4 separate regions of the Homo sapiens genome follow, and all the other regions are linked to region 1. The links come from fine-mapping of genetic effects on gene expression. A gene starts in region 1. Each other region holds a variant in brackets. All regions are shown on one strand. Distances are between the middles of the regions. Region 1 holds the start of PVR (PVR cell adhesion molecule). Region 2 has its middle 24 kb from the start of CEACAM20. Region 3 overlaps IGSF23 (immunoglobulin superfamily member 23). Region 4 has its middle 9.6 kb from the start of IGSF23.

Region 1 (5,884 bases):
TTTCTGCTGTGGAGCTTCAGGCCGGTTACTTAACCTCTCTGATTCTTTTTCCTAGTTTGTAAAATGAGACTTAGAACAGTGGACACTCACAGGGTGCTGACACAGATCAGGGGCTATTCTGGGTGCTTCACATATATCTTGGCATTTAATCCTCAAATAGCCCCCCTGAGGCAAGCACTACTGTTAACATCATTTTACAGACAGGGAAACTGACACAGAGTATAGTGTCCTCCAAGTCATACAGAGGTTTAGTGGCAGAGGTGGGATTTGAACTTGGGCGGTCAGAGACTGACCTCTAATCCCCCAGGTCCTATATAAAAATCTTTCTGCTAAGGGCCCTAGCACATAGTAGGTCCTCAAAATGTGACAGCGCTTATTGACACTAATAAACATGGTCCTATGCATTCTTTTTTATTTTTAAATTTTTATTTAGTTAATTATTTTTGTAGAGATGGGGTCTTGCCATATTGCCCAGGCTGGTTTTGAATTCCTAAGCTCAAGTGATCCTCCCACCACAGCCTCCCAAAGTGTTGGGATTACAGGCATGAGCCACTGTGCTTGGCTGCAACCAGCCTGGGCAGCATAGCGAAACCCTGTCTCTACCAAAAATACAAAAAAAATTAGCCAGGTGAGCACCTATAATCCCAGCTACTCCAGAAGCCACAGTGAGAGGATCGCTTGAGCCTGGGAAGTCGAGTTTGCAATGAGCCGGGATTGTACCACTGCACTCCAGCCTGGGCAACAAAGCAAGACCTTGTCTCTCTCATACACACACACACATACACGCACACACGCACTATATATATATATATATATATATATATATACACAAAACATATAAATAAATAATAAAATATGTTATCTATTTACTCTTTAAATGTATAATAAAATATATATTATTTATTATATAAATAATATATGTTATAAATATATAATATATTTAATATATATTTATTAAGAAATATATTATTATATATTATCAATTATATAATACATAATACATATTATATATTATAATAATATATATAATATATAATATACATATTATATATTATAATAATATATATAATATATAATATACATATTATATATTATAATAATATATATAATATATTATAATATATTATATATTACTATAATATATATTATATATTTTATTATATATTATATATTACTATAATATATATTATATATTTTATTATATATTATATATTACTATAATATATATTATATATTTTTATTATATATTACTATAATATGTAATATATAATAATAATATATAATATATATATTTATCAGGAGTTTGAGACCAGCCTGGCCAACATGGTGAAATCCTGTATCTACTAAAAATACAAAAATATTAGCCAGGCATAGTGGCACATGTCTGTAATCCGAGCTACTCGGGAGGCTGAAGCAGGAGAATCGCTTGAACTCGGGAGGAGGAGGCTGCAGTGAGCCGAGAGCAGGACACTGCACTCCAGCCTGGGTGATGGAGTGAGACTGTCTCAAAAAAAAAAAAAAAAGAATGAAAGAATGAATGAATGGCCAGGCCCCTGGAGTCAGACATTGGGGGTCAGAGGGGTAATGGTGTCAAGTGTCACCCACTGTCCTCCTCCCCAACATCAACCATCCCCTCCGTCCAGACCCAGCCTGCCAGCACGCTGCTGGGTTATGGCCTGGGTATGCTGAGCAGGAACCTGGGTAAGGTAATCCGGCATGCGTCACCATCTGCTGATTTTCCGGGATTCACTTGCCTTTTTGGGAAATTTCCTCACCCAACTCCATCCCCTTTCCGAGGGGCCCAGAGGAGGGTCTTGTGCCCGACCCGTGTTGCTGCCAATTTCGAGGAATTTCTGTACCCAACTCCGACCGCTCTCCGGGTGGCCAAGAGGAGGGTCCTGCCCTCGCACCCTCGCACCGTGTTCCTTCCAACCCCGGGGCAGAGATGGGGGGTGGGTGGCGCCGGGCGGGGCCGTCATCTTCGGGAACCCAAGGGGGCGAGTACCCGGCCTGGATGCGGAGCTGGGAGCCAGACAGGGGCCACCGGACTGCGCGGGGGTCACTCACCGGTTCCTGGGGGTGGCCAGGACAGCACCAGTAGCGCCACCAGCAGCAGCGGCCACGCGGCGGCCATGGCTCGGGCCATGCCAGTTGCTCCGAGCAGCTGGGCCTCCCGCGGGCGTCTCCTCGCTTCCCGGCGCCCGCTCGCTCTGCCGCGGTCGCTGCGAGTCCAGCTCCCGGAGCTCAGGTCCTGGAATCCCCGGGGGGCCGCTCCTCCAGTGCCTGGGGTGGGAAGGGGAATACCCACTTCTTCAAGCTCCAGACAAGTGACTGGAGCGGAGGGGAGTTGGCGGCCAGTCCCGCCAGGCGCGGGGTGGGCCACCCAGGCTGGCCCTCCCCGCGCGCCTGCGCCTGCGCAGGTCTCTCCCGGCGCTCAGTCCCGCTGCAGACGCGCGCTCGCTCCGTCGGTGCCCACTAGAAGAGGCGGCTTCCTGTGTGAGGTCGCCCACATTCCAGGTGAGGAAACGGAGGCACACGGAGAGATTCAGCAACTTACTAACGGCTCGCGGTTGCCGAGTGGCAGAGCTGAGGTTCCAACTCGTGATGGGACAGATCCTGAGCCCACCAGGCTGTCCTTCCACGCAGCCTAAACTTCCCATGGGCTTTGGGGTCAGACAAGACCAGGGCTCATGTTGGGCAAGTGGTTTCTCCTCGAGGGCCCTCAGATTCTTTATCTGAAAAATGGGCATAGTAGGGCGCGGTGGCTCAGGCCTGAATTCCAGCATTTTGGGAGGCTGAGGCAGGAGGACTGTGTGAACCCAGGAGTTAGAGGCTTCAGTGAGCTACCATTGCGCCACTACACTACAGCTTGGGTGGCAGAGCCAGACCTGTCTCAAAAAAAAAAAAAAAAGTTTGGGGGCTGGGGGAGCAAGCGCAGTGGCTGACGCCTGTAATCCCAGCACTTTGGGAGGCCGAGGCAGGAGGATCACCAGAGGTCCAGGAGTTCAAGACCAGCCTGGCCAACATGGCAAAAACCCATCTTTACTAAAAATACAAAAATTAGCCGGCATGGTGGCACATGCCTGTAATCCCAGCTACTGGGGAGGCTAAGACAGGAAAATCACTTGTACCCGGGAGGCAGAGGTTGCAGTGAGCCAAGATCGGGCCTCTGCACTCCAGCCTGGGCGACAGAGTGAGACTCTGTCTCAAAAAGAAAGAAAAAAGGGCATACTAACAGTACTTACCTCACAGCGTGGTCTGTAAAACTTAAACAAGAAACTGCCTAGCTCAATTTCGGGGATATAGTTTGTACTAAATAAAAAGCTGATATACCAACAATAGCAGCAGTGGCAGTGACAATTATTATTATTGTTGCTTTACAGTTGGCATCAAATAATAATGTTCATGAGAATGGTCATTCATTCATTCTTCATTCAGCATATATTTATTGATCCAGCCAGTATCCCAGGCACTGGGTATACAGCAGAAAATAAGACAGACAAAAATCTCTGCCTTTAATGAAGACCGTGTTCTAGTGGAGGGAAACAGACCATAAACAGATTAATACCAGAACTCCATCAGGTCTGGGGAAGATAAGGGTTATGGACCAGCCTGCAGTAGGGAGAGGGGAGGAGGGAGGGGGGAGAGAGAAAGAGAGAGAGAGAAAGAGAGAGAGAGAAAGAGAGAGAGAGAGAGAGAGAAATGAGAGAGAAACAGACACACTCAGAGATAAGGGCTGGGAGACAGAGACAGAGAGATTGAAAGAGATAGAGACACAGCATAGACAGAGGGAGATGAGAGAGAAATGAGAGGTGACAGAGAGACTCAGAGAGCCAAACCCTCAGAGACAGAAACTGAGAGACTTCCTGGTCCCCAGAGGTGGCTGTCCTGGCCAGGGTCTCCATGAGGCCGACTAACAGCTCTGGTCCCTGTGCTCTGACATCTTTATATGTTTTTTATTTTTATTATTATTTTTAGACAGGGTCTCACTATTTCACTGAGGCTGGAGTGAAGTGGCGCCATCATTGCTCATTGCAGCCTCCACCTCCTGGGCTCAACTCCTGCCTCAGCCTCCTGGGTAGTTGGGACCACAGGCATATGTGATCACACCCAGCTAGTTTTTAAATTTGTTGTAGAGATAGGATCTCGCTATGTTGCTCAGGCTGGCCTTGAATTCCTGGCCGCAAGCGATCCTCCCACCTCGGCCTCCCAAAGTGCTAGGATTGCAGGCATGAGCCACTGTGCCTGGCCCCACATTCCTGTATCTTTCTGTAAAATCCTTCCTTTGGCTTTTGGCTGGCTTGGAGGTTTCTGTCCCCGGGTGCCCTCTCTAACTTGGATCTGATGCTTGTGTATGACACATCTGATGCTTGGGGTCTCTCACCCTGGATGTATGTAGGTGAATTTCTAAATGGAAACAGGGAGGCTAGTCTCTTGGAAATCTCTGAATTTTCTGTCAGTGTTGTTTTGCTGAGTTATTTCCAAATTGGGAATCTGTGGCCATCGTTATGTTCCTCCTCTGGATGATGCTGTCACCATCTGGGATTCCCCCACTTCTCTGGGCTCCCAAGCTCCTGTGGCTCCAGGGACTCCTCTCAGGGCCCTGGAGGGTCAGAGGCTGCTCCGAAGAAGCAGGCTTAGAAGAAAAAGCAAGTTTGGTTCGGGGCATATCTGCTTGCTTCTGTGTGTTTCTCTGTCAAGAGTCTAAATTCCTTGAGTGTTTGGACCAGTTGTAGACATTTTCTTCACTCAAGTGCTGAAATATCATCTGATAAAATAGTGAATGGAGATCTCCAATGGGCATCTTATTTTTTGTGTGTGTTTGTTTGTTTTGAGACAGTCTTGCTCTGTCTCCCAAGCTGGAGTGCAATGGCGTGATCTCGGCTCACGGCAGCCTCCGCCTCCCAGGCTTAAGTGATTCTTGCGCCTCAGCCTCCCAAGTAGCTGGAATTACAGGCCTGCACCACCATACCCAGCTAATTTTTTTGTGTTTTTAGTAGAGATGGGGTTTCACCATGTTGGCCAGGCTGGTCTCGAACTCCTGAACTTAGGCGATCCACCCTCCTCAGCCTCCCAAAGTGCTGGGATTACAGGCGTGAGCCACCATGCCCAATGGGCATCCTCTTGATGCTGTGGTTTTCAAACTTCTGGATCCAAAAGGATCATCAGGAAGCTTGTGTAATTAAGCAAATATGAATCCATTTCCTTATTCTTCCCTCTCCCATTAAAAAATAAAATGGTAGCATTATTCTGTATCTTTCTGTTTTTCACTTAGCAACATATCTTGGTGATTTTCCCATAGGCAGATATATTGAGCTACCTCATTCATTCATTCACAAATGTGTACTATTCCATTACATGAATGCACCGTCATTTTTGAAACTGTCTTCAGGGGATGGGCTTTTTGGGTGTTTCCAGCCCTTTTGTACTTGCAAACTGTGCTTCCCTGGGTCATCATGTCCATGGCATTTCCCATGTATGTAACAGTATCTGTCATATTTATTCCCAGAAGCTGATTTGCTGGGCCAAAGGCCATGCACATTTGTGGTCTAGAGGATGTTGCCAAATTGCTGTCCAGCACTCATGCCAGCAAAGTAAGGTCGTGGAGTGGCTTCTACCCAGAAATGCTCACGGCAGTCAGGGAAGGTTTAAAATTTTCAGATATGCCCCCACCCCCTGTATTTCTACAAAAAATTAAAAAATTAGCCAGGTGTGGTGGCACATGCCCATAGTCCCAGCTACTTGGGAGGCTGAGGCTGGAGGATCCCTCAAGCCCAGGAGTTTGAGGCTGCCATGAGCCATGATTGCGCCACGGCCCTCCAGCCTCGGTGACAGAGTAAGACTCTGTCCACCCCAAAAAAGAAAATGTCAGATGTGAAGCTTT
Region 2 (5,937 bases), 90 kb after region 1:
AAATGACTGAAAGAGAGTGGTGAGTACTTCCGCAACCCCTTCCATGAGTGTCTGTGCCTCTCTGATTTCTCTGAGTACAAGAGGATGCAAGCCCCAACTGAGGGCAGGCTGAAAATGTCAGAGAAATTAACATCCTGGGAGTGACCATTAACTAACACCAAGAAGGAATTGGTAGATATATTCCCCTGAACTTAGGGGGAACAACTCAGAGGTGGTTTTATTTTTTGTTGTTGTTGTTTTGTTTTGAGATGGAGTTTCGTTCTTGTTGCCCAAGTTGGAATGCAATGGCACGATCTTGGCTCACCGCAACCTCCGCCTCCCAGGTTCAAGTGATTCTCCCACCTCAGCCTCCTGAGTAGCTGGGATTACAGGCATGTGACAGCACGCCGGGCTAATTTTGTATTTTTAGTAGAGAGGGGGTTTCTCCATGTTGGTCAGGCTGGTCTCAAACTCCCGACCTCAGGTGATCTGCCTGCCTCAGCCTCCTAAAGTGCTGAGATTACAGGCGTGAGCCACTGCGCCCGGCCCTCAGAGGTGTGTTTTGTACCAGTTTTCAGAGGTGAGCTCCAGTTTTCTATAGAGCTAATTTTTCTATATGGCTTCCTTCTTTTCCCTTACTTACTTTCCCACACCTCTGCCAATGCTTTCTCCAAAATAAACTAATTGCACTAAGGTGTGGTGGCTCACGCCTGTAATCCCAGCACTTTGGGAGGCTGAGGCAGGTGGATCACGAGGTGAGTAGATCGAGACCATCCTGGCTAACATGGTGAAACCCTGTCTCTACTAAAAATACAAAAAATTAGCCTGGCGTGGTGGCAGGCGACAGTGCGAGACTCCATCTCCAAAAAAGTAAATAAATAAATAATAAACTAATTGCACTTACATTCTAGTGCAGAGTCTGATTCTGGGTGAACTAAGAGAGTGAATAACATTTACTATTTCAGTTTCTGTACCTCGATGTCCAAGTGTCCTCAACTGGGTTCTCTCACCAGGTCAAAATCAAGGTGTGATGTGAGTTGGCTGGGGTTTACCTGTAGGCTTTGGGAAAGAACCCATATCCAAGCTCATTCAGATGGTGGCAGAATCCTGGTTCTTTTTTTTTTTTTTTTTTTTTTTGAGATGGAGTCTCGCTCTGTCGCCCAGGCTGGAGTGCAGTGGGGCGATCTCGGCTCACTGCAAGCTCCGGCACCCACCAGCATGCCTGGCTAATTTTTTGTATTTTTAGTAGAGACGGGGTTTCACCATGTTAGCCAGGATGGTCTCGATCTACTGACCTCGTGATCCATCTGCCTCGGCCTCCCAAAGTGCTGGGATTACAGGAATGAGCCACTGTGCCTGGCCAGAATCCAGGTTCTTACAGTTGTAGGACTGAGGTCTGTTTCCTTGCTGGCTGTCATCTGCGGGTGCTCTAAGCTCTTGCAGGCCACTCTACCCTGCTCACACATTGACCCCTGCATCTTCAAAGACAGCAAGGATGCATTGAATCCTCCTTGTGTTTTGATTCTCTGACTTTCTCATCTGATCTGCTTTTAAAAGAGTCACCTGATCAGGTCAGGCCCACCCAGATGATCTGTATTTTAAGATCAGCTGACTTTGAGCTTTAATTACAAAATCCCTTCAAAGCAATACCTAGATTAGCATTTGATTGAACAATCAGGAACAGAAATCTGGAAGGACTATATTTAGAATCCTGATTACCACGCTGGCATTGGGGTTTACTCAGTTTCTTGATTCCATAGATGTATGTCTTTTACCAGATTTGGGAAACCAGCCATTATACCCACTTCCTCCTTTCCTTCTGGGTCTCCAATGACATGAATGTTGGCTCTTTTGTTAAAGTCCCACAGGTCCCAAAGTTCTGTTCTTCACTTCTTATCAGTCTATTTTCTTTCTGTTGTTCAGATTTGGTAACTTTTATCTGCACTGATTTTTATCTCTGTCATCTCCATTCTGCAGCTGGGCTCAAACATTAAGTTTTTAAAAAATTTCTGTTATTGTGCTTTTCCATTCTAAAATTTCCGTCTTGTTCTTTTTCATATCTTCTATTTCTTTGCTGAGACTTTCTGGTTTTTCACTTATTTCAAGTGTTTGTAATTGTTCATTGAAGCATTTTTATGTTGGCTGCTCTAAGATTCTTTTAAGACAATTCTAACATCAGTGTAGTGAATTCTTACAATTTTATAGAAACTCAGTATCAATTTTTGAAATGTTATTGTTTTGAGACAGGGTCGCACTCTGTCACCCAGGCTGGAGTGCAGTGGTGCAATCACGGCTCACTGCAGCCTCGAGCTCCTGGGCTCAAGTGAACCTCTCATCTCAGTCCCCCAAGTAGCTGGGACTATAGGCGTATGCCACCACACCCAGCTAATTTTTTGAAATTTTATTTGTAGAGACGGAGGTCTCACTGTGTTGCCCAGGCTGGTCTCAAACTCCTGAGCTCAAGCAATCCTCTTGCCTCAGCCTCCCAAAGTGTTGGGATTACAGATGTGAGCCACTGTGCCTGGCTCAGTATCTATTTTGAATATAAGTTGGACTTTCTCATACCATAAGAAAAGCTTAGTCACCCTTGACACAGTTTCCAGGTCTCCGCCTCCCCCCAGATCCTTAATGTGGCAGATCCAGATA[C/A]CTGCCTTACACTACCACTTCCTGTTAACCACCTCCTTATGCAACAGCTAGATATAACTCACCTGACTGTCCCCCTGACCCCCAGACCCTGCATAGGCTGTGCAGATATGCCACAGTGATCACCTCCCAGTCAGTGTGACTCCATGCAACTTGTGCCTGCTGGCTCTAAACCCAGTTAGAATTCTCTGTGGAAAACTGCCTGAGCAGTTTCCTTAGACTCCAATAAAAGCATCAGCCCACAGGTCTCTCACTTTCTCTTTCTTGCTCCCCACCCGCTGGTTGAGTGTGCGTGTCCCGACAACTCTCTTCTTCCTGTTGGCTCTGTGAGATGTGCTGCTCTGTCTTCTCCGGAATCTGTGAGTAATAAACTGCCCCTGTTATTTCATGTGTTTTGTTGTGCTGCCTCCTCTGTGTCTCACCTGACTGACACATCCAAACCTAACGTCTTTCCTGGTCAGGGCTGTCCTAAAGCATGGCTCTCTTTGTAGAAATAAACTGGACACAGGTCAGACAAAAGCCTTAAGAATGTCTGCCATTATAAACAAGTGTACTGTGGCCAGGTGTGATGGCTCATGCCTGTGATCCCAGCACTATGGGAGGTTGGGGTGGGAGGATCCCATGAGGCTAGGAGTTCAAGATCAGCCTGGCCAACATGGTGAAACCCCGTCTGTACTTAAAAAAAAAAAAAAATTAGTTGGGTGTAGTGGCATATGTCTGTAATCCCACCTACTCAGGAGGCTGAGGCATGAGAATTGCTTGAACCTGGGAGGTGGAGGTTGCAGTGAGCCAAGACCATACCACTGCGCTCCGACCTGGGTGACAGAGTGAGACTCTGTCTCAAAAACAAACAAACACACAAAAAATAAGTGTACTGTGAGAGGGACACCTGGTCACAGGTCAGACATGTAGGCATTAGGCCGACCACCAAGATAAAGAAGTAACCAGTGAAAATTACACTTTAAACATCTACAACTAAATCCCCTAGAAAACTCAAGACCAAGTTAGAAAACATCAACAACAATCCATGTCATCTCTATTAATTGTCTTTCCTCATTTAATTTCAGGAATGTCTTTCTCATTCAGTCAATTTTTTTTTTTTTTTTGTAGAGATGGGGTCTCACTATGTTGCCCACGCTGGTCTCGAACTTCTGAGCTCAAGCAATTCTCCCACCTCGGCCTCCCAAAGTATTGGGATTACATGTAGGTGTATGACAAGTGATTTTCAACAACACCCTGGACATTTTGGAAATTATGAGACGCTGGATCTCATTTAAATCTTCTGTTATAGCAGGTCTCCTCTGACATCTTGCTGGTGGGGCAAAAAGGGCACCATCTTGTTATAGCCAGTGGGGATGGAGGTCCAGGTTCCCCATTTGGCCTCTGTTGACATTCCAGGTGGGGCGGGGCAACTGTTACTCTGGGCAGTTAGCAGAGTTCAGGCTTTCCACTGAGACATCCTCTGATACCATCTTGCCCAGAAGGGGCAGAGACGCCTCGTTACCGCTCCCTAGTGGCCTCAATGGACACTGCAGGGTCGGTGCTCATTACTGCTGGGCAAGGATGACAGTCCCAGCTGCTTATTCAGCCTGGTGGAGGGGATGGGTGTCTCTGTACAGCTGGCAAGGGTAAATGTCCAGGCTTTTCTGTGGGATATCACAGCAGCAAAGTGATTATCTTGTAAAGATTTGCTGTCTTTAGCAAATCTTGTCAGGCTACTGCTCCTTGTCCTTTGGCTAGAGCAGGCTTTGCTTGAGCCTCTTTTGGATCTACACTCATTGGCATTTCTAGATTGCCAGGCTCTCCAGCTCCCAGTCTGGGATCTGTGAGGCGCAAAGAAAGTCCAGAAAACTCACCACCATGTGCTTTCTCCGGTCTTGAGATCCGCAGCCAGTCTGCCATATTCTCTCCTCCTTTCCGAGTCATCTATTTTTATTTATTTATTTATTTATTTATTTATTTATTTATTTATTCATTCTTTAGCTGCACCTGTGATAGACTGCTTGATATTATTCCCATAGAACAATGATGTTCTGTTCATATTTTTGAGGCTTTTTCTCTATTGCTTTATTTTATTTTATTTATTTTTCCATAGATTATTGGGGTACAGGTCGGTTTGGTTACATGAGTAAGTTCTTTGGGGGTGATTTGTGAGATTTTGGTGCACCCATCACCTGAGCGGTATACACTCCACCCTATTTGTAGTCTTTCATCCCTCACTCCCCTCCCACTCTTCACCCCAAGTCCCCAAAGTCCATTGTATCATTCTTACGCTTTTGTGTCCTCATAGCTTAGCTCCCACATATCAGTGAGAACATATGATGTTTGGTTTTCCATTCCTGAGTTACTTCACTTAGAATAATAGTCTCCAGTCTCATCCAGGTCATTGCAAATGTTGTTAATTCATTCCTTTTTATGACCGAGTAGTATTCCATCATTCATATATATATATATATATATATATATATATATGAACATATATATGAACGTATATATGAACATATATATGAATGTATATATGAACGTATATATGAACGTATATATGAACGTATATATGAACGTATATATGAACGTGTATATATGAACGTATATATGAACGTATATATATGAACGTATATATATGAACGTATATATATGAACGTATATATATGAACGTATATATGAACGTATATATATGAACGTATATATGAACGCGTATATATGAACGTATATATGAACGCGTATATATGAACGCGTATATATGAACGCGTATATATGAACGCGTATATATGAACGTATATATGAACGCGTATATATGAACGCATATATATGAACGCATATATATGAACGCATATATGAACGTATATATAAACGCATATATGAACGTATATATATGAACGTATATATGAACGTATATATATGAACGCATATATGAACGTATATATATGAACGCATATATGAACGTATATATATGAACGCATATATGAACGCATATATGAACGTATATATATGAACGTATATATGAACGTATATATGAACGTATATATGAACATATATATATGAACGTATATATGAACATATATATATATATCACAGTTTCTTTATCCACTTGTTGATTGATGGGTATTTGGGTTGGTGCCACGATTTTGCAATTGTGAATTGTGCTGCTATAAACATGCGTGTGCGAGTATCTTTTTTGTGTAATGACTTCTTTTCCTCTGGGTAGATACCCAGTAGTGGGACTGCTGGATCAAATGGTAGTTCTACTTTTAGTTGTTTAAGGAATCTCCACACTGTTTTTCATAACGGCTGTACTAGTTTACATTCCCACCAGCA
Region 3 (5,937 bases), 25 kb after region 1:
CTCCAGAGTAGTTGGGATTACAGGCGTGCGCCACTACATCCAGCTATTTTTTGTAGAGATGGGGTCTCACCATGTTGCCCAGGCTGGTCTTGAACTCCCGGGCTCAAGTGATCCACCCACCTTGTCCTCCCAAAGTGCTGGGGTTAAAGGTGTAAGCCACCGTGCCGGCCTTATTCCCATTTTGATGAGAAAAGGAAGGCTCAAAGAAGTCAAGTCCTTTGAAACAAACAGGGCTATTTTTTTTTTTTTTTTTTTGAGACAGGGTCTTGCTGTGTCCCCCAGGCTGGAGTGCAGTGGCAAGGTTACAGCTCACTGCAGCCTCAACCTCCCGGGCTCAAGGGATCCTTCCATCTCAGCCTCCTGAGTAGCTGGGACTATGGGCGCACATCACCAGGCTTGGCTAATTTTTAAATTCTTTGTTGAGATGGGCGTCTCATCATGTTGCCCAGGCTGGTCTCGAACTTCTGAGCTCAAGCAATCCTCTCACCTCGGCCTCCCAAACTGCTGGGATTACAGGTGTGAGCCATAGCACCTGGCCAGGGCTAACATTTACTTGCTCTTTGTCAGGCATTGTTGTAGGCATTTAGCACTGATTAACTCACTTACTCCTCACAGTCACCCTATGAGGTAGGTTCCACTATGACCTCATTGCACAGATGGGGAAACTGAAGTGCAAAACAGAAAGTTACTTTTTTGCAGGGACTCAGGGGCATAACAGATGCCAGAGGGATTTGATCCAGGGAGTTCTGGCCACACAGCCTGCACCACCGAGCGTGAGTTCCTGCAACCTCTCTCTTTAGAAAGGGCCCTTCGGACTGAGAATGGCATAGGCGAAGGTGTGGAGCCAGGCCTTTAGAAGAATTAGCCTTCAGGCCGGGCCCGGTGGCTCACGCCTGTAATCCCAGCACTTTGGGAGGCCAAGGCAGGTGGATAACCTGAGGTCAGGAATTTGAGACCAGCCTGGCCAACATGGTGAAACCCTGTCTCTACTAAAAATATAAAAATTAGCCGGGCGTGGTGGCGGGCGCCTGTGATCCCAGCTACTCAGGAGGCTGAGGCAGGAGACTCGCTTGAACCCGGGTGGTGGAGGTTGTAGTGAGCCGAGATCGCACCACTTCACTCCAGCCTGGGCGACAGAGCGAGGCTCCATCTCACACACACACACACACACACACACACACACACACACACACACAAAATTAGTCATCAAATCACAGAAATACAGATGGATGAACCTCAGCGGTCCATAAATTCTCTGGGAGGGGAGTAAAAACCCCTCTGTGCAGAAGTGGGGTTCTAAGTGTGCAGTGGCATGGTCTTGGCTCATTGCAACCTCCGACTCCCAGGTTCAAGCGATTCTACTTCCTCAGTCTCCTGAATAGCTAGGATTACAGGCGCCTGCCACTATGCCCGGCTAATTTTTGTATTTTTAATAAATACGGGGTTTCACCATGTTGGTCAGGCTGGTCTTGAACTCCTGAACTCGTGATCTGCCCGCCTTGGCCTCCCAAAATGCTGGGATTACAGGCGTGAGCCACTGCGCCTGGCCGACACTGGAACTTTTTGAGTCTTTGTTAGAGCATCAGAATCTGAACCCTAACTAAGTTGATCTCTGTTATGAACTGAATTGAGTCCCCCACCAAACATATATGTTGAAACCCTAACCCCCAGTACCTCAGAATGTGACCGTATTTGGAGATAAGGTCTTTAACGAGGTGATTAAGTTAGAATGAAGTTGTTAGGGTGGGTCCTAATCCAACCTGACTGGTGCCCTTATAAGAAGAGGAAGTTTGGACACACAGAGAGACACCAGGGATGTGCACACACAGAAGAAAGACCATGCAAGGACAGAATGAGAAGGCACCCTTCCGCAAGTCAAAAAAGAGAGGCCTCAGAGGAGATGAAACCTGCCAGCAGCTTCATCTTGCAATCCATCCTTCAGAACTGTGAGGGAATAAGTTTCTGTTGATTAAGCCTAGAGTATTTTGCCCGAGCCGACTAGGACAGTCTCTGGACTATCTTCTAAAAGGAGGATGGGTCTGGTTACTCTCAGGGCTTTGTTTTCCTAATTCAGATATGAAAGTTTGAGTCCAGGTGATAAAAATATAGATGAGGTTGAAGGCTGCTACCAGACCTTCTCTACCTTTCCCAAGTGATGATGAATGCGTATCTCATGAATGTCTGTTGCAAGTCTTGGCTGTTATAATGTGGATATTTATCCCTGCCAAAATCTCATGTTGAAATGCGATCCCCAGTGTTGGTGGTGGGGCCTCAGTAAAGGTGTTTGGGCCACAGGGGCGGATCCCTTATGGCTTGACGCTGTCCTCATGGTAGTGAGTTCTCATGAGATCTGATTGTTGTAAAATGTGGCACTTCCTCTCTGACTCTCTCTTTCTCTTGCTCCTGTTCTCACGGGAGACACCTGCTCCTCCTTTGCCTTCGCTATGATTAAAAGCTCCCTGAGGGCTCCTTAGAAGCTGAGCAGATGCTGGCATTACACTTCCACCTGTGGAACCATGAGCCAATCAAACGTCTTCTTCTTTTTTTTTTTTTTTTAAATAAATAACCCAGTCTCAGGTATGTCTTTATAGCAATGGAAGAACAATCTAACACAACGACAAAAAATAGCCACAACACATTGCAACTCCTCTCCTTAAGAGGTGGGGCCTTTTTCCTTCCTGTTGAAGCTGGGCTGGCCATGT[G/A]ACTTGCTTTGACCAATAGAAGGTGGCAGAAGTGATGGTGGTCAGTTTTGAGCCTGGGCCTGAAGGAGTTTTGCAGCTTTACCTCTTGTTCCTCTTCCATTGCTGAGTGAACAAGCCTGGGATAGCCTGCTGGAGGTTGGGAGGCTATGTGGCCCACTCATCCCCATCACTCCAGCCACCAGCTGGTCCATGGCCAGGCACATGAAGGAGGTCATTCTGGACCAGCCAACACCCAGACACCCCAACAGCTGAACACAACAACTGTCCAGCTAGATAAGTGATTGATGTTTTAAGTTTTGGGGTGGTTTATTGGGGAGCAATGGATAACCAGCATGCAAAGTGTCCTGGTGGGCTCTTCTGAGGTCCAGTGGGTCTGCTTTCTGAGAAGTCAGCCCCTCCCACTGCGGGGCCCCACTCACTCTTGACATGGATCTGCTCCGTCACACTCCTGTGTCCCCTGCTGGTTTCCAGCACGACGGTGTAGCTGCCCGAGTCCTGAGCCGTCATTTTCTAATGACCAGGCTGCCTTGGGTTCCCAGCATCTCCCGGCCAGTGTGAGCAGGTCCTGGGAGGCCCTTCGGGGAGAATATCATGGCTGCTGGCTGGGCGTCATACCCTCAGAACCAAGACGTGGTGAGAATGCCTTCAAGCCTTCCGGGGACAGGAAGATGGACACTGGCTCCTTCGGTCAAGGTGTTCAGCTGTGCCGAGAAGGGCAGCTCTGAGAAGGCAGAGCAGGTGCAGGATGTGAGCAGGGCGCCTTGGAAGAGCAGGGAAGGAGGAGGAATCATTGATTCCTCTCCTTGACCCCTTGAAGCACGCACGTATATTATACTGGATGTTGCAAAAATTGGTTTTCTACCCTTCTCTGCTCCACTCTGCTGCCTGAAAGGCTGACTTCTCTGAGCTGTGTTGTTGGGGTCCCCTTACCTTTTGCTGCTGGTTGGTTTCTGTCAGTGGGCACGTTGGCAGAAGAGGAGAGGGCAGCGGGGGAGTAAGCTTGAAGGGATTAGTCCTACAGTTGGCTGGGTCCTTCTGTTCCAGCCCACAGCTCCTGTTGAGTGTCTCTCTCCATATACTACTAATGTCTTCTGGTTCTGGGATCTGCTTTGCTCCATTTACTCCTACCCAACCCCTCACCCAACATTTTCTCACCACCTTATTTAGAAATAATAAAGGGTTATAAATCAATGTGAATGGTACATTTTTAAAGGGTGACATAATGTTTGTTCTGGACACTGATTAAGTTATAACCTTGCCACTATTTTTTCTTTTTAAAATTAACAAATACAAATTGTGTATATTTATGGTGTACAATGTGATGTTTTAAAATACATATACATTGTGGAATGGCTAAATTGAGCTAATTAACATATGCATTACCTCATGTACTTATTTTTTTTGTGGTGAGAACACATAAAATCTACTTTCTTAGCCAATAATTTACTCATTTAAAGCGTACAATTCAAGAGCTTTTAGTATACTCACAGAATTGGGCAACCATCACCTCAAGCAATTTAAGGACATTTTCGTCACCCCAAAAAGAATCCCTGCGTCTCTTGGGCACCACACCTAATCCTTTCACTCCTGATAGGCATTTTTTTTTTTTTTTTAATATAAGAGTAGGCCGGTGTGTTGGCTCATACCTGTAATCCTGCACTTTGCGGGGGCGGGGGGAGGGGTGGGGCAAGGCTGGAAGATTACTTGAGCCAGAAGTTCAAGACTAGCCTGGGCAACTGAGTGAGGCCCTGTCTCTACAAAAATAAAAAATTCGCTGGGCATGGTGGCACGCGCCTGTAGTCCCAGCTACTCAGGAGGCTGAGGTGGGAAGATTCCTCAAGTCCAGGAGTTTGAGGTTTCAGTGAGCTATGATCCTGCCACTGCACTGCAGCCTGGGTGACAGAGCAAGACCTTTCTCCCTCTCTCTCTCTCTCTTTTTCTCTCTCTCCCTCTCTCTCTCTACATATATGGTATTACTCATATATACTCATATATATATATTTATTTATTTCCATTTTTATAGCAGAAAACTTAGACTCCTAGAAATAAACACTATGTTTTGGAAACTTTTACTGTTTTTTTTTTTCAAGCTTTATGCTTGTTATTGTTTCTATTTCCTTCTTCTTTTTTTTTTTTTTTTGAGATGGAGTCTCGCTCTGTCGCCAGGCTGGAGTGCAGTGGTGCAATCTCGGCTCACTGCAAGCTCCACCTCCCGGGTTCAAGTGATTCCCCTGCCTCAGCCTCCCGAGTAGTTGGGACTACAGGCGTGCGCCACCACGCCCAGCTAATTTTTTTGTATTTTAGTAGAGACAGGGTTTCACCATGTCGGCCAGGATGGTCTCAATCTCCTGACCTTGTGATCCGCCTGCCTGGGCCTCCCAAAGTGCTGGGATTACAGGTGTGAGCCACCACGCCTGGCTGTTTCTATTTCTTTTAAACAAAAAGTAGAATTATGTTCAGCAATTCTTACAAGGCATCACAAAAAACAACGTCTGCTCCTCATTATAGAATAATTTGGAAAGTAAAGTAAAAAGCAGTAAAACAAATCCTTAAGCCTAATACTCAGATAACCACTTTGGGGAGTATATTTTCTTTGAAGGTTTTTCATAATTTTTAAAATTAATTTTTAATCACTCAAGAGCTTCTCCTTAGGAAAAAAAAGTAGACCCATATAAAGCCAAATATCCCTTTGACCTCCACCCCTACGCTTGTCCTGGTCACACTCTCGAGGTACCTGCTGTTATCAAGAGAACATTTTGTATTTACAGAGTTGAAGTTCGTTGCACTGTGGCTTTGTTTTCCTTTGGACAATGTTTTGTAAGCTCCCCCAGCTCACTTTGCAAACATGTTGTAAACCACTTTCTAAAAACTGGTTGCTGTTTTATCCAGTGGCACAGCCAATTTCCAAAGTACCCCACCCTCCCGCCCCCAGGAAGATCCAGCAACACACAGCATGCCGTGTTTCCATCACAAAACTACAGCAGCCTAGGAGAAACTTTCCAATCTCCTTTTCTTTCCTTCCTCCCCTCTGCCCTCCGCCCTGAGAGAGGCCTCAGACAACAGCTCTGACAAAATAGGGAAGAGGCCCACCACGTCCCTTTCCTCCTTCCAGTGTGACACCTGCCTGAGCTGGGGACAGAGCAAAGCTTTGAACTAGGTGGACTTTGAGGTTTTAAAATTACATGGAACTGAACTTTTTTTTTTTTTTTTTAAAGATGGAGTTTCGCTCTTGTTG
Region 4 (5,937 bases), 39 kb after region 1:
ATTTTTTTTTTTTTTTTTTTTTTTTTGATGGAGTCTCACTCTGTCGCCCAGGCTGGAGTGCAATGGCGCGATCTCGGCTCACTGAAAGCTCCGCCTCCCGGGTTCACGCCATTCTCCTGCCTCAGCCTCCCAAGTAGCTGGGACTACAGGTGCCCGCCACCACGCCCAGGTAATTTTTTGTATTTGTAGTAGAGATGGTGTTTCACCGTGTTAGCCAGGATGGTGTCGATCTCCTGACCTCGTGATCTGCTCACCTCAGCCTCCCAAAGTGCTGGGATTACAGGCGTGAGCCACCGCGCCCAGCCAACCTTGGGATTTTGTAGACAGAAAAGTGTATTGCAAGGCTGTCAAGCAAGGAGATAGGAGTCAGGCTCAAATATATCTCCCTGAGCTAGGGGTTGGGACAGGTTTTATAGTCCCAAGGGTAATGAGGCATGATCTGATTGGATCTTGCCTTATTGTGAACATTTCCCAAACCTCAGTGTTTCTCGTACTACATTTGTAATTATTTGCAGGGAGGCATGATCTGATTGGATCTTGTAATGAGGTGATGTGGGGAGGCATGATTTGATTGGACCGTGCCCTGGGGTGATGCCAGGGCTCAATGTGATTGGATCCTGGATCCCGCCATGCAGTGTCCACTTCTTAATTCAATCCTCACTTCCCAGTCTGAGTACTTGGGTTTCAGTCAAGGTTGCACGTTTGGTTCACCTGGGCATGCTTAGGTTATGGACCTTCAACCTGGGAGTCCGTGGCAACTGAAAAACAACTTACAGCTTTGTTACATAAAAGTTGAATCAGATTGGTCTGGTGTGGTTACAAATGCCCCTATATTTCCCAGTCGAAGGCATCCCCTGCCCCTCCTAGAGGTTTTGGAAATCTCTTCCTACAATTTGATTTTGTGTGTGTGTGTGGAGATGGGATCTCATTTTGTTGCTCAGGCTGGTTTTGAACTCAGGGCCTCAAGTAATCCTCCCACCTCAGCCTCCCAAAGCACCGGGATTATAGGCATGAGCCACTGTGCCCAGCCCATCTTCCTACAGTTTGGTTGTCACAATGCCTGAGGATGAAACAGTAGTGACATTTATTGGGCAAAACCTCCTGCAATAATAGGTGGGACTGTCCCATACAACAGAAACTTGTCTCAGCTAAAATATTAATACTGCCCCAGTTAGAAATCTGAAGTTGGAATAAAACTTTTGGCTTTTGTCCCCTGCTATGAGTTTGATGAGTCTGGGAGAAGAAAATGAGCTTACTTGGCTCAGATCCTCTCCTCCCATTTTTGGATTTACCTGTCTCCAGAACGACTACAGTTTGGTCTGCTTCCTCCTACTATGTGATAATGTACCTGCCTTAGCAGAGGAAGCAACTATTGGGGTTGTAAATATATATGGCAGAGAAGCTAGTGGTGCCTCCCCAATCTACGAGTCCTTTCATAGTTAGAGGAGTTTAAGTTTGGCCAATGGTTGCCTGGAATAAAGACTAAATTTCCCAGCCTTCCTTGCAGCAGCTGTAGTCACGTGAGCATGTTCTGGTGAATGGTATGTGAACAGAAGAGTTGTGTGCCATTTCTGGGTCATGCCCTTCAATAAAGTTCTCCCTTTCTTGTTTTCCCTACCTTCAGGTGGAAGTGGGGACATGCTGGGGGATCTGGGAACAAGTGTGCGACACGCTAGGGGCCCTGGGAACAAGCGTGTCGATGAAAACCCTCTAAAATATATACATTTTTTGAGACAGAGTCTTGCTCTGTCACCCAGGCTGGACTGTAGTGGCACAATCTTGGATCACTGCAACCTCCGCCTCCTAGGTTCAAGCAATTCTCGTGCCTCAGCTTCCCGAGTAGCTGGGATTGCAGGGGTGTACCACAACGCCCAGCTAAGTTTTTTGTATTTTTAGTAGAGACAGGGTTTCACCATGTTGGCCAGTCTGGTCTCGAACTCCTGACCTCAGGTGATCTGCCCACCTTGGCCTCCCAAAGTGCTGGGATTACAGGCATGAGCCACTGTGCCTGGCCCTGTAAAATATTTTAAGAGATTTATTCTGAGCTAAATATGAGTGACCATAGCCCATGACACAGCCCTCAGGTGACCCTGAAAACATATGGCCAAGATGTTTGGGGTGTAGCTTTGTTTTATACATTTTAGGGAGACACGAGACATCAATCAAAACATTTAAGATATACATCGGTTCAGTCCAGAAAGGTGGGATAACTGAAAGTGGTGGGGGAGGGGCTTCCATATAGGTCGATTGAAAAATTTTTCTATTGGCAATTGGTTGAAAGAGTTATTATCAATAGAAAGGACTGTCTGAGTTATGATAAGAGGTTGTGGAGACCAGAGTTTTATGATGCAAATGAAGCCTCCAGGTAGCAGCCTTCAGAGAGAATGGATTGTAAATGTTTCTTATCAGACTTCAGGTCTGTGTCGATGTTAAATGCTGGTCTGTTTTTCCTGAACTCCAAAAGGGATGCGGCCATAATGAAGCACTCATACAGGAGCTAGAAAGAAATTGTTTAGGCAGATAGTAAGGGCAACAGAGTCTGTGGTGGAATTTCCCTTTTAACAAAAAGCCGCCCCAAAGTCACGTCTTTTATACAAAGAGCATCCTGAAAAACTGAGCTGTAAACATAGATAACCAAAGTAGTGGCTCGCTTGGGTGAATGCCGGCAGCTGTGCCAATAGAATAGGGCTACCTGGAGGCCAGGTATGTTCAACATGGAGGCTTTATCCTCCCTTTTCTTTGTCACCACATGTACAGTAAAAAAAAAGCAGGCAACATGGCACAGGCCAGGTAGACAGCCCATCTGCATAATAAAAGATTGGGGTGGGGTGGCCAGCTTTTTCAGGAGCTATGCAAAAGGCACACCTAACCCTAACCAGCTCTTTGCATGCTATACAAATGGCACACCTGGTTCGACCAATATTTTGTGCCCTATGTAAATCAGACACTGCCTTTTCAAACTCATCTATAAAACCTCCTGCACTTCACCATGGACCGGAAAACCCTCTTGGGACCCCCCTCTCTCTGCAGAAGACAGCAAAATTTTCTCTTTATTTCACCTATTAAACCTCTGCTCCTAACCTCACTCCTTGTGGGTCCACATCCTTGATTTCATTGGCTTGAGGCAACGAAT[C/T]TCGGGTATTACCCAAGACGAACAACCCTGCTTCAGCACATCCAACCCCAACCCCCATCCCACCCGTCATGGGCTGAACCAGTCTTTCAGGTTAAATTTGGAGTGGCCTGGCCAAGGAGGGAGTCCGTTCAGATGGTTTAGGTGTGTGGTAGGTGGCGGCTTTGAGTTGTATTTTTGGTTTACAAGCTCAGCATCATAGGGATAGCAGAGAACAAGATGGAAGAGCACAGACTCATGATACCCTCACAAAGCAGAACTGCATACCAGCTAGGACTGTTACAGGAGAGAGAAATTCATTTCTATGGAATTTAAGCCATTGCTATTTTTAATCTATCACCAGCATCCAAACTTACATCCTATGTTGATATTTAGATTGGAGGCGACAGGAAGCAAAGGAGGTGATGACAAACCCATTGGGCTACACAGCTTGGCCACATTCCCTGATATTGCGTATTGCTTAGGAAATACTGATGACATGCTGATCTGTCTCTCTCTCTCAGTTGGTTCTGACTTCTGGCCAGGACTAAGGATGTCATTTGTTGATGAAAAAAGCTAAACTCTAAAATATTTGAAAATATTTATTCTTAGCCAAATGTGAGGACCATGACCTATGACACAGCTTCAGGAAATCCTGAGAATGTGTGCCCCAGATGGTTGGATTACAGCTTGATTTTGTACATTTTAGGGGGACAGAAGTTACAGGCAGACATCAGTCAGTACACGTAAGGTATACGCTGATTCAGCCCAGAAAGGTGGGACAACTTGAAGTGGGGCAGAGGGGTTACAGGTCATAAATGGATTCAAAGATTTTCTGATTGGCAATTGGTTGAAAGAGTTAAGTTATCATCTCAAGACCTGGAATCAATAGAAAGGAATGTCTGGGATAAGATAAGTTGTTGTGGAGACTAAGGTTCTTTTTTTTTTTTTTTTTTTTTTTGAGACAGAGTCTTGCTCTGTTGCCCAGGCTGGAGTGCAGTGGCGTGATTGCGATCTCGGCTCACTGCAACCTCTGCCTCCCAGGTTCAAGCAATTCTCCTGCCTCAGCCTCTTGAGTAGCTGGGATTACAGGCACCCGCCACCAATGTCTGGCTAATTTTTTATATTTTTAGTAGAGATGGGGTTTTGCCATTTTGGCCAGGCTGGTCTCGAACTCCTGACCTCAAGTGATCTGCCTGCCTTGGCCTCCAAAAGTGTTGGGATTACAAACGTAAGCCACCACACCCGTTTAGATTTTTTTTGAGATACCACTGAAACAGTGTCATTGCCTGGGGTAAATACCCGAGATTCGCTGTCTCACAGCCACAGAAAACTAGGACATGGACCACCAGAGTAAGATTAAGAGGGGAAGTTTAATAGGTGAAAGAAAGAGAAGAGCTCTCTGCACAGAGAGGGGTTCTGGAGAAAATAGGTTGCCACTTTGGCAGTGAAATGCAGAAGGTTTTATAGATGAGATTGAGGAGGCTGTGTCTGATTTACATAGGACACGAAAGATTGGTCGGACCAGGTGTGCCATTTGCATAGCACATGATGAACTGGTTAGGACTAAGTGTGCCGTTTGCATAGCGCGCAAAGAAGCTGGCTGCCCCACCCAGCTTCATTATGCAGATGGGTTGTCTACCTGGCCAGTGCCATGTTGCCTGCTTTTTTTTTTTTAACCGCACATGTGGTAACAAACAAAAGGGAAGATGGAGCCTCCAGGTTGAACATACCTGGCTTCCAGGTAGCCCTTTTCTATTGGCACAGCTGCCAGCATTCACCCATGCAAGCTTCCAGCTTGCTTATCTATGTCTGCAGCTCAATTTTTCAGGCTGCTCTTTGTTTAGAAAAGAAATGATTTTGGGGCTGCTTTTTGTTAAAGAGGAATTCCACCAAGGACTCTGTTGCTCTTACTATCTGCCTAAATAATTTCTTTCTATCTTCTGTATCATCACCAGTGTGTTTTGAGAGGCTCTTGCCTGTGTGAATTCAGCAAGCCCTGCAGAGGTCTGGAGCCGACAATTCCAGTTAGCAGCAACAGCAGCAGCTTTTTGATTCCCCACCTGCCTGTGATGGTGGAGACAGCAGCTCCTCTGATGGGTCACTTTCGCAGCTTCAGATCATCGTGGGGTACTAATGGAGTCAGAGTCCTTTCTCTTTTCCATCATAGAACAGTCAGATGTCTTTCCCAGGGATGGATCTGTCCCCTTCGCCTTCTGAGAAATTGAATTAGGCCAGGTGCAGGGGCTCACACCTGTAATCCTAGTGCTTTGGGAGGCCAAGGTGGGAGGATTGCTTGAGGCCAGGAGTTCCTGACCAGCCTGGGCAACATAGTGAGACTCCATCTATTTTTTTAAAAAGTTAGCTAGGCAGTTAGCTAGTGCCTGTAGTTCCAGCTACCAGGAGGCTGAGGTGGGAGGATTGCTTTAGCCCATGAGTTCCGGGCTGCCGTGAGTTACGGTTCCTGTCACTGCACTCCAGTCCCAGCCATTCCCAGGAGACAGAGTGAGACCCTGTCTTTAAAAAAATAAAAAAAGTAAAAAACAACAAAAAAAAGAATTTAAGTTAATTCAATCTTCAATCAAATCAGAAGCACATGAATGTCCTAACACCAGACTGACCCCTGAAATATCTTAGGAAACACAAGTGCAATAGTATTCCAAATGAAAGCAATTTTCTCATCTTGCTGTTTTCAGCCACCATCCATATATCAGCATGAAGGAAAATATTCATTTAAATGAGACAAGACTGTTACATTATCTATATGTTTTAATAAAAATTTCTAGCAGAGTCCTGGGTGGTCTTTTTAGCTCTATGAGGGTAGGGGA

The links. PIP is the estimated chance that this variant, and not a neighbour inherited with it, causes the effect.
Region 2: its variant is fine-mapped to the expression of PVR in whole blood (TOPMed, PIP above 0.99). The same link has a PIP of 0.9 or more in blood mononuclear cells.
Region 3: its variant is fine-mapped to the expression of PVR in whole blood (TOPMed, PIP above 0.99).
Region 4: its variant is fine-mapped to the expression of PVR in unexposed skin (GTEx, PIP 0.92).

Annotation. Positions count from the first base shown.
Region 1 is chr19:44,640,359-44,646,242 of GRCh38, reverse strand. PVR (PVR cell adhesion molecule) reads right to left here and starts at 2,333. Exons shown (of 8, transcript NM_006505.5): 1 at 2,068-2,333. The coding sequence starts at 2,146. RefSeq lists a silencer at 2,302-2,381.
Region 2 is chr19:44,550,684-44,556,620 of GRCh38, reverse strand. It overlaps the pseudogene CEACAM22P. Among named protein-coding and RNA genes, the nearest start is that of CEACAM20, 24 kb to the right of the region's middle. The variant C/A (reference allele first, on the strand shown) is at 2,626.
Region 3 is chr19:44,615,601-44,621,537 of GRCh38, reverse strand. The region is part of intron 1 of IGSF23 (immunoglobulin superfamily member 23); the gene reads right to left. Among named protein-coding and RNA genes, the nearest start is that of IGSF23, 5.0 kb to the right of the region's middle. The variant G/A (reference allele first, on the strand shown) is at 2,703.
Region 4 is chr19:44,601,035-44,606,971 of GRCh38, reverse strand. No RefSeq gene overlaps it. Among named protein-coding and RNA genes, the nearest start is that of IGSF23, 9.6 kb to the left of the region's middle. The variant C/T (reference allele first, on the strand shown) is at 3,134.